Regions from separate parts of the Homo sapiens genome. Here regions 1 and 3 are each linked to region 2. Evidence: fine-mapped expression QTL. A gene starts in region 2. Each other region holds a variant in brackets. All regions are shown on one strand. Distances are between the middles of the regions.

Region 1 (4,202 bases), 230 kb before region 2:
TTTACCAAAAAACTCTCAAAAACTTCCCTTCTGGAGTTGACAACGCTTTAGTCTACCAATAAAGCAGTAATAAGTAAAAAAAAAAAAAAAGTGTACCGGAGAGTGCAAAGTGCCAAGGCAAGGAGAGCAGAGCGGGGAAGGGGAATATCAGCAGGGCTGCGGCTGTGGACAGGACGGCCATCAGTCTCCCGAGGAGGCCTGTGTGCCCTGAAGGTAAAAGGAGCCCCCGAGTACACTGGCCCTGCTGTGTCACCCGAAGGGCCAGGGAGGCCTCGGGGCAGGGTGGATGGAGGGGTGGGCAGGAGGGTTAGGGAAGGCAGTGGAGGGTTTTGAGCAGAGGAATAAAATAATTGGATTCACCTTTCTTGAACATCAGGTTTATTAAGGTACAATTCACATGCAGTGAGAGTCACCCTTTTTCATTCTCTATGAACTTTGGTGAATTCATACGCCCATGTGCCTAGCAGCACCGTCAAGGTGTGCAACAGCTGATCACTCCCAAATTCCTCTGTGCTCCCTTGAGTCGACCCCTCGTCCTACTGGCAGCCTCTGCCACCACTGATGTGTTTTGGGTCCCTATAGTTTTGCTCCAGAATGTCACGCCAATGGCATCATACAGCACACTGGCCTTTGAATCTGGCTTCTTTCACACAGTGTGGTGCATGTGAGAGTCATACACATTGCCACACGCAACTGTAGCGTGTTTCCTTTTACTCCTGAGTATTCTTTAATTGTATGAATGCACCATTTGTTTATCCATTGCCAATTGATGGACATATGAGTTGTTTACAGTTTGGGGCAATTTTGAATAAAGCTGTAAACATCTGCACATAGATTGTGTGGATGTATGTTTTCATTTCCTAAGTGCAATGGCTGGACCATAGAAGTAACGGCAAACTGTCTAAGGGGCTGCACCATTTTCTTTTCCGACTGGGAACATGTAGAATTCCAGTTGCTCTGCCCTCTCAGCACTAAGTATTGTCATTCTGAAAAGCATTTTGGCAACTCCAGTAGACTGGAGTGTAATCTCGTTGTGGTTTTTTTTTTTTTAAATTCTGGATTTGTCTAATGATTAATGACATCAAGCATTTTTGCATGTGTTTGTTTGCCTTCCATATATCTTCTTTGATGACACTTCTGTTCAAATCTTTTGTCTGTTTTGGTTGGGTTATTTTCTTAGGGAGTTGTGACAGTTCTTCATATATTAGGAATACTAATCCTATAGCAGATACGTGTTTAGCAAATATGTTCTCCAATTTTAGGCTTGTCTTTTCATTCTGGTTTTTTGTTTTGTTTTGAGACAGGGTCTCAATCTGTTGCCCAGGCTGGAGTGCAGTAGTATGATCACAGCTCACTGGAACCTCGAACACCTGGGCTCAAGCAATCCTTCCGCCGTAGCCTCCTGAGTAGCTGGGACCACAGGCATGCGCCACCATGCCCAGCTGATTTTTTAAAATTATTTTTTGTAGAGACAGAGCCTCACTTTGTTGTCCAGGCTGGTCTTGAACTCCTGGATTCCAGCAATCTTCCCACCTCTTCTCTCAAAGTTAATCAAAGCTGGGATTGCAGGTACAAGCCACTGCACTTGGCCTCATTTTTAAAAATATCTTTTGTGGTGGGGCACAGTGGCTCACTCCCGTAATTCCAGCACTATGGGAGGCCAAGGCAAGTGGATCATTTGAGGTCAGGAGTTCAAGACCAGCCTGGCCAACATGGTGAAACCCCGTCTCTACTAAAAATACAAAAATTAGTTGTGTGTGTTGAAATGTGCCTGTAATCCCAGCTACTTGGGAGGCTGAGGCAGAGGAATCGTTTGAACCCAGGAGGCAGAGACTGCAGTGAGCTGAGATTGCACCACTGCACTGCAGCCTGGGCAACAGAGCAAGACTGTCTCAAATATATATATATATGTATATATATATATATCATATAGCAAAAGTTTTGCTGTAGTTCAATTTATCGATTTTTTCCATTTGAGATGGAATCTCGGTCTGTCACCAAGGCTGGAGTACAGTGGCACTATCTTGGCTCACTGCAACCTCCGACTCCCAGGTTCAAGCAATTTTCCTGCCTCAGCCTCCCAGGGACTACAGGTGCACACCAGCAGGCCCAGCTTTTTTTAGTAGGGACGGGTTTCACCATGTTGGCCAAGTTGGTCTCAAACTCATGACCTCAGGTAATCCGCCTGCTTTGGCCTCCCAAAGTGTTGGAATTACAGGCGTGAGCCACCAACGCCTGGCCTTGTGTTTTCTATACAGGTTTCATAATTTTAGATTTTACGTTTCTGTCTACAATCCATTTCAAGTTATTTTTTGTACAGGGTAAAAGGTATGTGCTATGGATCAAGCTGTCCCCAACTCCAGTCCACATGTAGAAGCCCTAAGCCCCAGATGTGACTGTATTTGGTGACGGGGCCTGTAAGGAGGTGATCAGTTCAAGGAGTTCCTGTGGGGCCCTGATCCACAGAATCAGTGGTCTCATAGGAGACACCTGGAAATCCACTTGCTCTTTTTCTCTCCCTGCACACACAGAGG[C/A]AAGTCTGTTTGAGGACACAGCAGGACCATGGCTGTTTACCAGCCAAGAGAAGAGGCCTAAGAGTGACACCCACCTCACAAACACAAACTCTTGGACTTCTGGCTTCCAGAACTGTGAGAAATACATTTCTTTTGTCTAAGCTGTGATATTTTCTTGGGGCAGCCCGAGCAAGCTAAAACGGCATGTCAAGAATGTCTCTTTTTGTATAGGATTGTCTAAATTTCTCCAGCATCATTTGTAGAAAAGATGATCTTTTCTCCATTAATTGCCTTTCCAAGTTTGTTAAAAATCAATTGACCGTATAAGTGAGTCTATGATACATGATTGATGAAGCTTTCCTTAATTCCTACTTTATGTAAAATTTTAAAAATCATGAATGGATGTTGAATTTTGTCAAATGCTTTTTCTATACCTATTGAGATAATCATATACTTTTCCTTCTTTGATACAGTAAACTGGATTTTCAAACACTGAACCTAACTTATCCTGGGGTAAACCCCACTTGTGTCATCATATATTATCTTTTAAAATATATTCAGTTTGGCCGGGTGCAGTGGCTCACGCCTGTAATCCCAGCACTTTGGGAGGAGGCTGAGACGGGCGGATCACGAGGTCAGGAGATGGAGACCATCCTGGCTAACACGGTGAAACCCTGTCTCTACTAAAAATACAAAAAAGTTAGCCAGGCGTGGTGGCGTGCACCTGTAGTCCCAGCTACTCGGGAGGCTGAGGCAGGAGAATGGCGTGAACCCAGGAGGCAGAGCTTGTAGTGAGCCAAGATCGTGCCACTGCACTCCAGCCTGGGCAACAGAGTGAGACTCCATCTCAAAAAAAAAAAAAATTCAGTTTGCTTAAAGATTATGTTGAAGATTTAAAAAAATCTATGTTTATAAGGGATATTCGTCTGTAGTTTTCTTTTCTGGTCATGTCTTTGTCTAGTTTTGGTATCAGAGCAAAGCTGGCCTCTGAAAATAAAATAAGTTGGAAAATATTCCCTTTTTCCACTTTTTGGAAGAGTCTATACAGAATTGGCATTATTTCTTCCCTAAACAGTTGGTAGACTTCAATAAAGAAGCCATTTGGACCTGGGATTGTCTTTCTTGGAAGGTTTTTCCACTCTAAACTTAATTTATTTAATATATATGGTATTATGAAGCTTTTGCTTTTTTTTTTTTTTTTTTTTTTGAGATGGGGTTTCACTCTGTTGCCCAGGCTATAGTGCAGTGGCACCATCACAGCTCATTCCTCCTACCTCAGCCTCCCCAAGCAGCTGGGAGCACAGGCGTTCACCACCACATTCAGCTAATTTTTTAATATTTTGTAGAGCCAGGGGCTCCCTGTGTTGCCCGGACTGGTCTCAAACTCCTGAGCTCAAGTGATCCTCCTCCCTCAACCTCAAAAACTGCTGGGATTACAGGCATAAGCCAGGGCACCTGGCCTGGTTATCTCTTTTTTTTTTTTTTTTGTCCTCTGGTGTTGAAACTGAAGGTTATCTATTCTTTTTTTTTTGAGACAGAGTCTCACTCTGTCACCCAGACTGGAGTGCAGTGGCGCAATCTCGGCTCACTGCAAGCTCTGCCTCCTGGGTTCACGCCATTCTCCTGCCTCAGCCTCCCGAGTAGCTGGGACTACAGGCGCCCGCCACCATGCCCGGCTAATTTTTTGTA
Region 2 (4,202 bases):
GAAGAGTGGGGGCTGGGGGACATGCTCTGACCTCAGAAACTGCTCACCTCCAAAATGCTGCCCTTCCTCTGACCCAGCCCCTCCAGAGACCCCACAGGGCTGGCCTTCCACCTTGCCTCCTGTTGAGCCACGGAGACCTTGCCCTGGCACCCTGACTCACACAGACTCTATGCTCCAATGGGGGCTACCACGGGGGCCTCTTGGCTGGAATCTGGGGACAGGTAAAAATGATTCAGAATGTTTGAGAAGGAATGCTTCCCACAGGATGGTGAGGCCCACTGGAGAAGAGGTTCCAAGCAGGCCCGCACAAGACAACTTGGAGGATGAGGCTCAGGGTTCCCACATCCAGGCCAAAGCCCATCTCAGCCCAGCAGGGCACACATGGCATTCAGAGCTGACCTTCCCGAAGACATGAATGCCCCTTCCCCACCCCAAGTTTAGAACATGGTTTTCTGGATCAAAGTCTAGCGCCGAAAGCCAGGACAGCCATTGAGGTGCAGGAGTAGCTCGTGGCACAGGGCAGACTGGCCCAGGGCTAACGTGGCCACGCCCAGGGCTAAGCCGGTGACCCCAGCTGCCCTGGCCCTCGAGGAAGGTGTTATCTGCCAGGCCTACCTTTTCCTTCAGACGCGAGGGGCACTGCCCAGACGACCCTGCCCGAGGAAGCTGTTCTCAGGCACAGACCATAAAGGAAAGTGGAGTCGCGGCCTCCCCACCACCCTGCCCTCAGGCCCAGCCGGGCACTCACCAGCCGCTCGGACATGGGCGTTTTGTCCCCATCAGGGAGGTGCTGCTCCAGGGCCAGCACGATGCAGTTGGCGATGATGGTGGCCAGGATCATATACTCGAATGGAGTGCGTGAGTTAAGGACTGGCCGGCAGACGCCGCACGGAGGGAAACACGAGGCCGACGCCAGCAGAGCCCAGTGCAGCAGCCACCGCTAGGCCGTCTCCGGAGGGGCTGAGACAACTGGGTCCGGAGCCCCTCTCCTGGCGGAAGCGGCCTGGTCTCCCTCACTCCCTGCCCCCATCCCTAGGGGCGGCCGCGAGGCGGGGCCTCCGCAGTCTGGGCCGCCAGCCCCTCGGCACACCCGGGCGGCCGTCAGCACCGCGGACAGCGCCTCCGGCCCGGCTCCGCCCGACTCCAGGGCCCCGAGGGGAGGGGGCCGAGCGCCCCCAGGCGAGGCTGGAGGGAGACCCCGCGCAGGCGCACGCTGCTCCCTCCAGACACGCAGCCACATGTACCTACACAGGCACGTGAACATGCATGTAGCCCGCATCGCGAGCGCACGCACGCGCAGCGCCAGGCTCCAGCTCAGCCCGCACACGCAGGCACCTGCAGCCAGGCGCGCGCACGGCCGCGTCCCCACAGCGCTCGCACCTGCACGGACGCGGCTTCGCCCTCGGTGCCCTCCAGGCTAGCCGCGCACTGTGCACCGACCAGGATCCCCAGGACCCGGCGTGCGGAGGGACGAGTCCGGAGCAGAGGGGCTCCGCCCCGCGCCCGCCGCACTCACGGAAATGCTCCCGCACCCGCCGCTCCGAGGGGCCCTGGGGCGCTCCGTACCCCCCTCGCCCGTCTCCCGACGCCTCCCCAGGTCGCGCCCTCCCGGCCACCGGGAAGATGGCCCCGGCCCCGGCCCCCACCCCGGTCCCCGCCCGGCCCCGCCCGGCCCCGCCCGGCAGGATATGGCCACTCGGTGATGCGCTTCGCGTATTTGCGGACGACGTTGTCCTCGCTGAAGACGAAGAGCGAGCGGTTGACGGTGAAGCAGTTCTGCTTGACCGGGATGGGGTTGTACAGCGCCATGGTCCGCGCGCGCTGCGCGATCGATTGCTTGTAGAGGACCCGCTGGCCGGGCTGCAGCCCCCCGGGACCCGGGCCCCCCGCCCCGCCGGCCCCGCCGCCCCGGGCCCGCTCTCCGCCGCCGGGGCCCCCATAGCGGCCGCCCAGCTCGTCCCCGAAGCGGACCATGGCTCCCGGGCCCCGCGTGCATCCCCGGCCCAGCGGCCCCGGCAGGGAGGGCGCGGGGCGCGCCAGGCGCTCAGAGCGGAGCAGCCACGGAGCCGCCGGGACCGCAGCGGACCTCGCCCGGCCCCACCGCCGCAGCCGCCGCCGCCTCACCCGACTCCGCGGCCCCGCGCCACGCCCTATAAGGGGCCGGTCACGTGGCGGGGCCCGGCCAATCCGCGCCGGCCCCGCCCACCCTGCCGCGCCGGCCCCGCCCCGCGGCCGCCCCCGCCCCGCCCCGGCCCCTCCGGCTGCGCCTCCCTCGCCCCGCGCCTCCCACCCCGGGGCTGGGCCGGGCCCAGGAGCGGACGAGCCTGTGGGTCCTCGACGGCCGCTCAGCGCCAGCCCGGGCCGTCCCCGGAGCCCACTCTGCCGGCCGCACCGCCCCTGGGTGCCCTCGGCTCCTCAAACTCGGCCCAGACGGACCCCTCGCTCCGCCCGGAGGCGCCACCAGCCCTGGGGCTGCAGCCCAGAGCTGGGCGCCAGGCCTGGGCCGGCCCGCCCCGTCCCCGCCGGGTCCCCGGCCTTCCCAACCCTCCGGGTGCGCTCGGCTCGCGGCCTTGGTGCCACGCGGACGCTTCTGTCGGGGGCCCCCAGCCCGGGTGCGGGACCTGCTGTTTCCACGCACGGGGCTGGCTCCGGGATCTCAGCTCAGAGAAGCCTCTGACCGCCTTGCAGGCCACGCCCCGTTAGGGAACCTGTCACGGTCACTGCCATTCCCCAGGCCTCCTTGAGCGCCCACCGCGGGCCGGGCCTGTCCTGGGCTCCCAGCTCTGCCCTCACGGAGCTGACCGTTTTGTACAAAGCACAGCAACCATTTACACAGCGCTCACTTCGTGCAGGCCCGTGGGTCCTCACAACCTCCAAAAAGGCGGCCCCGGGGTCGGGGAGACCTTCGGGAACAAGGGACCCTCTCGGACCTGAAGCTCGCTCGCAAGGCGCTGAGTGCAGAGTGAGGCCGGGTGCGGGCTGCGCCTTCTGAGAGGGAGGCAGTCCGCACAGTTCCGAGCAGAGGCGCGTAGGCCTCTGAAGGGTCCCTCGGGCTGCCGTGTGGAGTGTGGACTGCAGGAGGCTGGGGTGCTGAATCACTTAGGATGCATTCAGAGGCGAACAACCCGCTTCCCAGCTAGCAGCAGCTTGCACGATGCCATTGTGATCTCACTGAATACGAAGCCACCATCTCTCCTCCCTCCAAAATCCCCACATACACTTTCTGCCTTCCTGCCTGTTGCCTCATGCCCCAGGGTGGCTGTCATAGCACAGGGCATCACACCGCTACACCAGCATCTCAAACGGGAAGGAAGTGGCAGGTGTACAAAGGATGACCACTTTGTGAATCAGGTTACGATTTTCTTTTCTAACAAAGGAAAAGCTTCTCAGAGGCTCCCCCTGCAAGTGTCTCTTTAACCCCGTTAGGCCATGGGCCATGTGGCCGGCCCTGACTTTAACAGGGTGGGAAAGTGAACATGTGTCAAAGTGGACCAGGATGGCCAGCCCCCACTAGGCGAGCACATAGTTGCCCCAAACAAAATCAGGGTTCGCTTAGCTGGGAAGCAGGTGCTAAGGCTGTCGGGGAGGCTGCCAACTGGCCTGTCACAGAGAAAAATCAGAGCCCAGGGAGGGGTTTTGACAGCAGCACAGAGAGAGATGATGTGGTTTGAACATGGGGGCCATGAGCAGTGCCTCTTTCTCTTAGAGAGAGTGCGTCCAGTGTAAATGTGAAGGAGAGATAGAAACACAGGCTCTTCATTTTTGGTCTGAGTGACTGAGTCGAGGGGGATGCCCTTTGCCGAGATGGGGAAGACAGAGGGAAGAGCTTGTTAGTCACAGGGTGGAAATTAAGAATTGCCTACTGGGGACAGAAGTGGAGATGCTATGCAGGGGTGGAGTTTCTCGAGGGATGCCAAGACGAGAGGCCACTGCTGCAGCCCTGCGCCTGGAGGCTGGGCTCGCCACATCTGCTCTGCCCTTCCCTCCGTGCTGCGTGACGCTGGAGCTGGCCTTTGAAAGCCACATCAGCCTGTTCCTTGACCTGTGGTTTCTGGTTATGCTAGCCCAACAGGAGCACCAAAGGCCCTTGAGGGAAGGAAAGAGCAAGGCCAAGGTGTCTACTATTCCCCTGACTTCCTCCTGCCAGGTCACCGAGGGTTGGCTGTGCACCTCAATTGAAGCTCCGGCCCTGTCAGGCACCC
Region 3 (4,202 bases), 300 kb before region 2:
GGGGAACCAGTCAGCAAAGTAGCTGCTGTTCTTATCTTGAATGTTGAACATCTGTTCATCCACCTCCCTCATGGGCATGCGACCCTGGAAAATGGCAGCCGCCGTTAGGTAGCGGCCGTGACGGGGGTCACGGGCAGCCCTCATGTTCTTAGCATCAAACATCTGCTGGGTGAGCTCAGCCACAGTCAAGGCCCGGTACTGCTGGCTGCCCCGGCTGGTCAGTGGGGCAAAGCCAGGCATGAAGAAATGCAGCCGGGGAAACGGGACCATGTTCACGGCCAGCTTCCGCAGGTCAGCATTCAGCTGGCCTGGGAAGCGCAGGCACGTGGTGACCCCACTCATGGTAGCAGACACCAGGTGGTTCAGGTCACCATAGGTGGGTGTGGGCAGTTTTAGGGTCTTGGAACATATGTCATATAGCGCTTCGTTATCTATGCAGAAGGTCTCATCTGCGTTTTCTATGAGCTGGTGGACTGAGAGGGTGGCGTTGTAGGGCTCCACCACGGTGTCTGACACCTTGGGCGAGGGCAGGATGCTGAATGTGTTTATGATCCTGTCTGGGTACTCCTCCCGGATCTTGCTGATGAGGAGGGTAACCATCCCAGACCCAGTCCCCCCACCCAGGGAGTGGGTCAGCTGGAAACCCTGCAGGCAGTCACAGCTCTCAGCCTCCTTTCTGACAACGTCCATCACTGACTCCGTCAGCTCCGCGCCTTCGGTGTAGCGTCCCTTGGCCCAGTTGTTTCCGGCCCCACACTGACCTGTAAGACAGCACAGCCGGTCACTCGATGGCCAGGTATACGGTCATCAGTGGTCACCACCATAATGCAGAAAGAGCCAAGTGTCACACGTGAGGTGAGAGCACCGTTCGCCCTGCAGGTGGAGCAAATGAAACCCGCTCCCCCAGAGTAACAGGACAGCAGCTTCCCCTGTTAGGAATTAAGTCAGGAGTCAAACCTGAGACGGGCTCACAGACCTCGCCGCAGGTGGCTCCTGCCCATTCTCAGGAAAGGCAGTAGCCACGGCCCCAGCTCAGCTCCCGGCAGGGACATCAGTAGCTCCTCACCTTGAGGAGACACCCGGGACTTCCTCCCGAAGCCCGTTTAAGAGAGGCAGATTGAGCGACTCGACTCGGCAGATAGGAGGGTGTTCAGGGGCCCTGGCGCCACAGTTCCCACAGGATGACCTTGGAGCGTTCCTGGATTTTGAGCTGCCCTGGCTAAGGAGCCGCACCCCAGTCCTCGCCCGCAGCTCACCGAAGATGAAGTTGTCTGGCCTGAGGACCTGCCCGAAGGGCCCCGAGCGCACAGAGTCCATGGTGCCCGGCTCCAGATCCACGAGCACAGCGCGGGGCACGTACCTGCCACCTGCGTGGGGCGGGAGGGCATGAGCGAGGGGAGGGCCGCGTTCCCAGGAGGGCGGTGGGGGAAGGACGGGGGTCGCACCGCTGGCCTCGTGGTGGTGCACATTGGGTGGGGGAAGGACGGGGGTCGCACCGCTGGCCTCGTGGTGGTGCACGTTGATGCGCTCCAGCTGCAGGTGGCTGTCCCCGTGGTAGGTGCCAGCGGAGTCGATAGCATGTTCATCAGAGATCACCTCCCAGAACTGCAAGAGACGGGAGGGGCCAGACAGGCCGGGGCTGAGTCACGGAGGCACCCCAGCCACTCTCCCACCCCCACCCGCACCCCCATCCCTAGGCCGCCCTGTCCCTGGGGTCCACCCCGGCCGCCTCGCCAGCCACCCAGTTCCACCGTCCCCGGCAGGGAGCCCAGGGGCCGCAATGCAGGGGCACCGCCCCGCCACTGCTAACATCTTCCCCGGCCACCCGGCAGGCCCGGGCTGGGCCCTCAGAGCCCTGGCTGCCAACCTTGGCCCCGATCTGGTTCCCGCACTGCCCGATCTGCGTGAGAGCACAAGCTCCCTCGTGGCCAAGGCAGGATTAGGGCGGCAGGAGAAGCGCGAGAAGGAGGAGCAGACGCGCAGCGACCCAGCCCGGCCTCCGCCAACGCTTAAACAGCCCCGCGCCCACCTCCCTCAGCCTCCGATTGGGCTCCCAGAATAAGCAACAGCTTTACTTCCACACAGGTGCACCCACCTGTGAATCCCTTGGCGTTGAACGTCTGTTGGAGAACTCAGGTGTCCTTGCGTGGTCCCTTCCACGTTGGGGAAAGCTGCTCAGCTGGAGAACTTCCTCCCACGTCTTTAGTAAGACTAAATCCCTAGCTGAGCTGAAACTGAATTTTCCTCCCATGTGGGAGGGGAAGACTCTTGTTTCCATATGCACGGAGTGCCTTTGCACCTGTCCCAGATTGATGACATATTTTTGTAATTGATGAGTCTTTTCATCTATTAGGAGATCTGTCGTTAGGAAAGGCCTTCCACATGTTAACTCAACAGGACTTAATTATACGTTTTACTTTGGAGCAGTTCAAACCCGCAGTAAGCTATGGGTGTTGGAG[A/G]TAGTCAGGCGTCTGATTTAGCTGGAGTCTTCTGTAGAGTAGGATTAGCCCTTTCACCTTTCCAGAGGACTGCAGTCTCCACACAGAGTGAAGGTAATATTGGATTCTTAAAGCTGAGATAGGTGTTGGGTTACGCCTGCTGTGAAAGATGGGCCATTGTCACTTTGCAGGCTTTTAGATTACCCAAACTGAGGAGTTATTTCTTCTGGTAAACATTTTTCAGATGGGGTGGGGAATGCCTCAATCTAACCAGTGAAGGTATCAGTAAGCATTAGCAAATATTTGAATCTCCTGCAGAAAGGCTTCGGGGTAAATTAGAGTTGCCAGTTCTCATGTAGATTGGTTCCTCAATGTTGGACAGGTTTAACTGGAGAAGGAGAAAATTGCTGGCCGTTTGGGTCATGTCAGGCACAGAGCTCACAGGGCTGAGTCACCTGTTTTAGTGTCTTGAAAAGATTTACCCCTATAAACAAATGAGACATTAACAGAAACAAAGAATCCCTTCTAGGGTGAAAAGAATCATGAAAGTGCTGAGTTATACTCCTGTGATTGGTACTTGGCGTTAGTAATTTATTACCATCATTCAGCCCGAGGGGCCCTGGACTGAAATGCAATCCCTGGCCCATTTTCGTTCTTCTTCAGGGTATTCCGGCCCAGTTCTATGTATGCTGACCAGCACGCCCACAAGCTTCATTGGCCCTTTCAGTGCAGGGGCCTTGGCTGTGGCATCTACAAGGGCATTTCCTTTTACATGGTCAGTCTCTCTTTTGATGTCCTCTGCAATTAATTATAGTCACTTTTTGGCAGCAAAGCAGCACTCTAACAAGCTCAAAATCTGAATGATGTTGTATGGAAAAGCCCTTGGGGGTCAGGAGTCCCCACCCATTCCAAATTGCAGCATAAGCATGAAGCACTAAAAAATCATACTTGGAATCAGTGTAAATGTTAACTTTTAAATCCTTTCCAACTGCAGGGACCTAGTAAGTTCAATTAACTCAGCTTTTTGAGCTGAGGTCGAGGCCAGCAAGGCTTGTGCCTTGATTCTCTTGTGCTAATAATAGCATATCTAGCCCTCCTGTTTTCCTGATGCATAAAACAACTTGCATCTGTTAACCACTCTGCCTTGGGATGGTCAAGGGGCTCATCTCTCTTAAGTCTGGCCTGCTAGAATCAATTTGTTTCATAACCTGTGACATGCTTTGGCTGTGTCCCCAGTCAAATCTTATCTTGAATTATAGCTCCCATAATTCCTATATATCGTGGGAGGGGCCCAGTGGGAGGTAATTGAATCGGGGGATGGGTCTTTCCCATGCTGTTCTCGTGACAGTGAATAAGCCTCATGAGATCTGATGGTTTATTTATTTATTTATTTTTGAGACAGAGTCTTGCTCTGTTGCTCAGGCTGGAGTGCATTATCATGATCTTGGCTCACTGCAACCTCTGATTCCCGGGTTCAAGCGATTCTCCTGTCTCAGCCTCCCGAGTAGCTGGGATTACAGGCGCCCACCACCATGACTGTCTAATTTTTGTACTTTTAGTATAGACGAGGTTTCACCATGTCGGCCAGGCTGGCCTCAATCTCCTCACCTCAGGTCATCCACTGCCTTGGCCTCCCAAAGTGCTGGGATTACAGCTGATGGTTTTATAAAGGGGAGTTTCCCTACACAAGCTCTTTTGCCTGCTGCCACGTAAGAGATGTGACTTTGTTCCTCACCTGCCTTCTGCCATGAGTGTGAGGCCTCT

The links. PIP is the estimated chance that this variant, and not a neighbour inherited with it, causes the effect. A credible set is the group of variants that fine-mapping cannot tell apart.
Region 1: its variant is the best candidate, but not a certain one, in a credible set for the expression of CACNA1B in cerebellar hemisphere (GTEx, PIP 0.88).
Region 3: its variant is the best candidate, but not a certain one, in a credible set for the expression of CACNA1B in nucleus accumbens (GTEx, PIP 0.74).

What each region holds. Positions count from the first base shown.
Region 1 is chr9:138,107,827-138,112,028 of GRCh38, reverse strand. All of the region lies in intron 39 of CACNA1B (calcium voltage-gated channel subunit alpha1 B), which reads right to left. Among named protein-coding and RNA genes, the nearest start is that of FAM157B, 110 kb to the left of the region's middle. The variant C/A (reference allele first, on the strand shown) is at 2,535.
Region 2 is chr9:137,875,706-137,879,907 of GRCh38, reverse strand. CACNA1B (calcium voltage-gated channel subunit alpha1 B) reads right to left here and starts at 2,126. Exons shown (of 47, transcript NM_000718.4): 1 at 1,691-2,126; 2 at 749-854. The coding sequence starts at 1,974. The region is part of intron 2 of CACNA1B-AS2 (CACNA1B antisense RNA 2); the gene reads left to right. RefSeq lists an enhancer at 1,018-1,933.
Region 3 is chr9:138,172,766-138,176,967 of GRCh38, reverse strand. It overlaps the pseudogene TUBBP5. Among named protein-coding and RNA genes, the nearest start is that of FAM157B, 42 kb to the left of the region's middle. The variant A/G (reference allele first, on the strand shown) is at 2,460.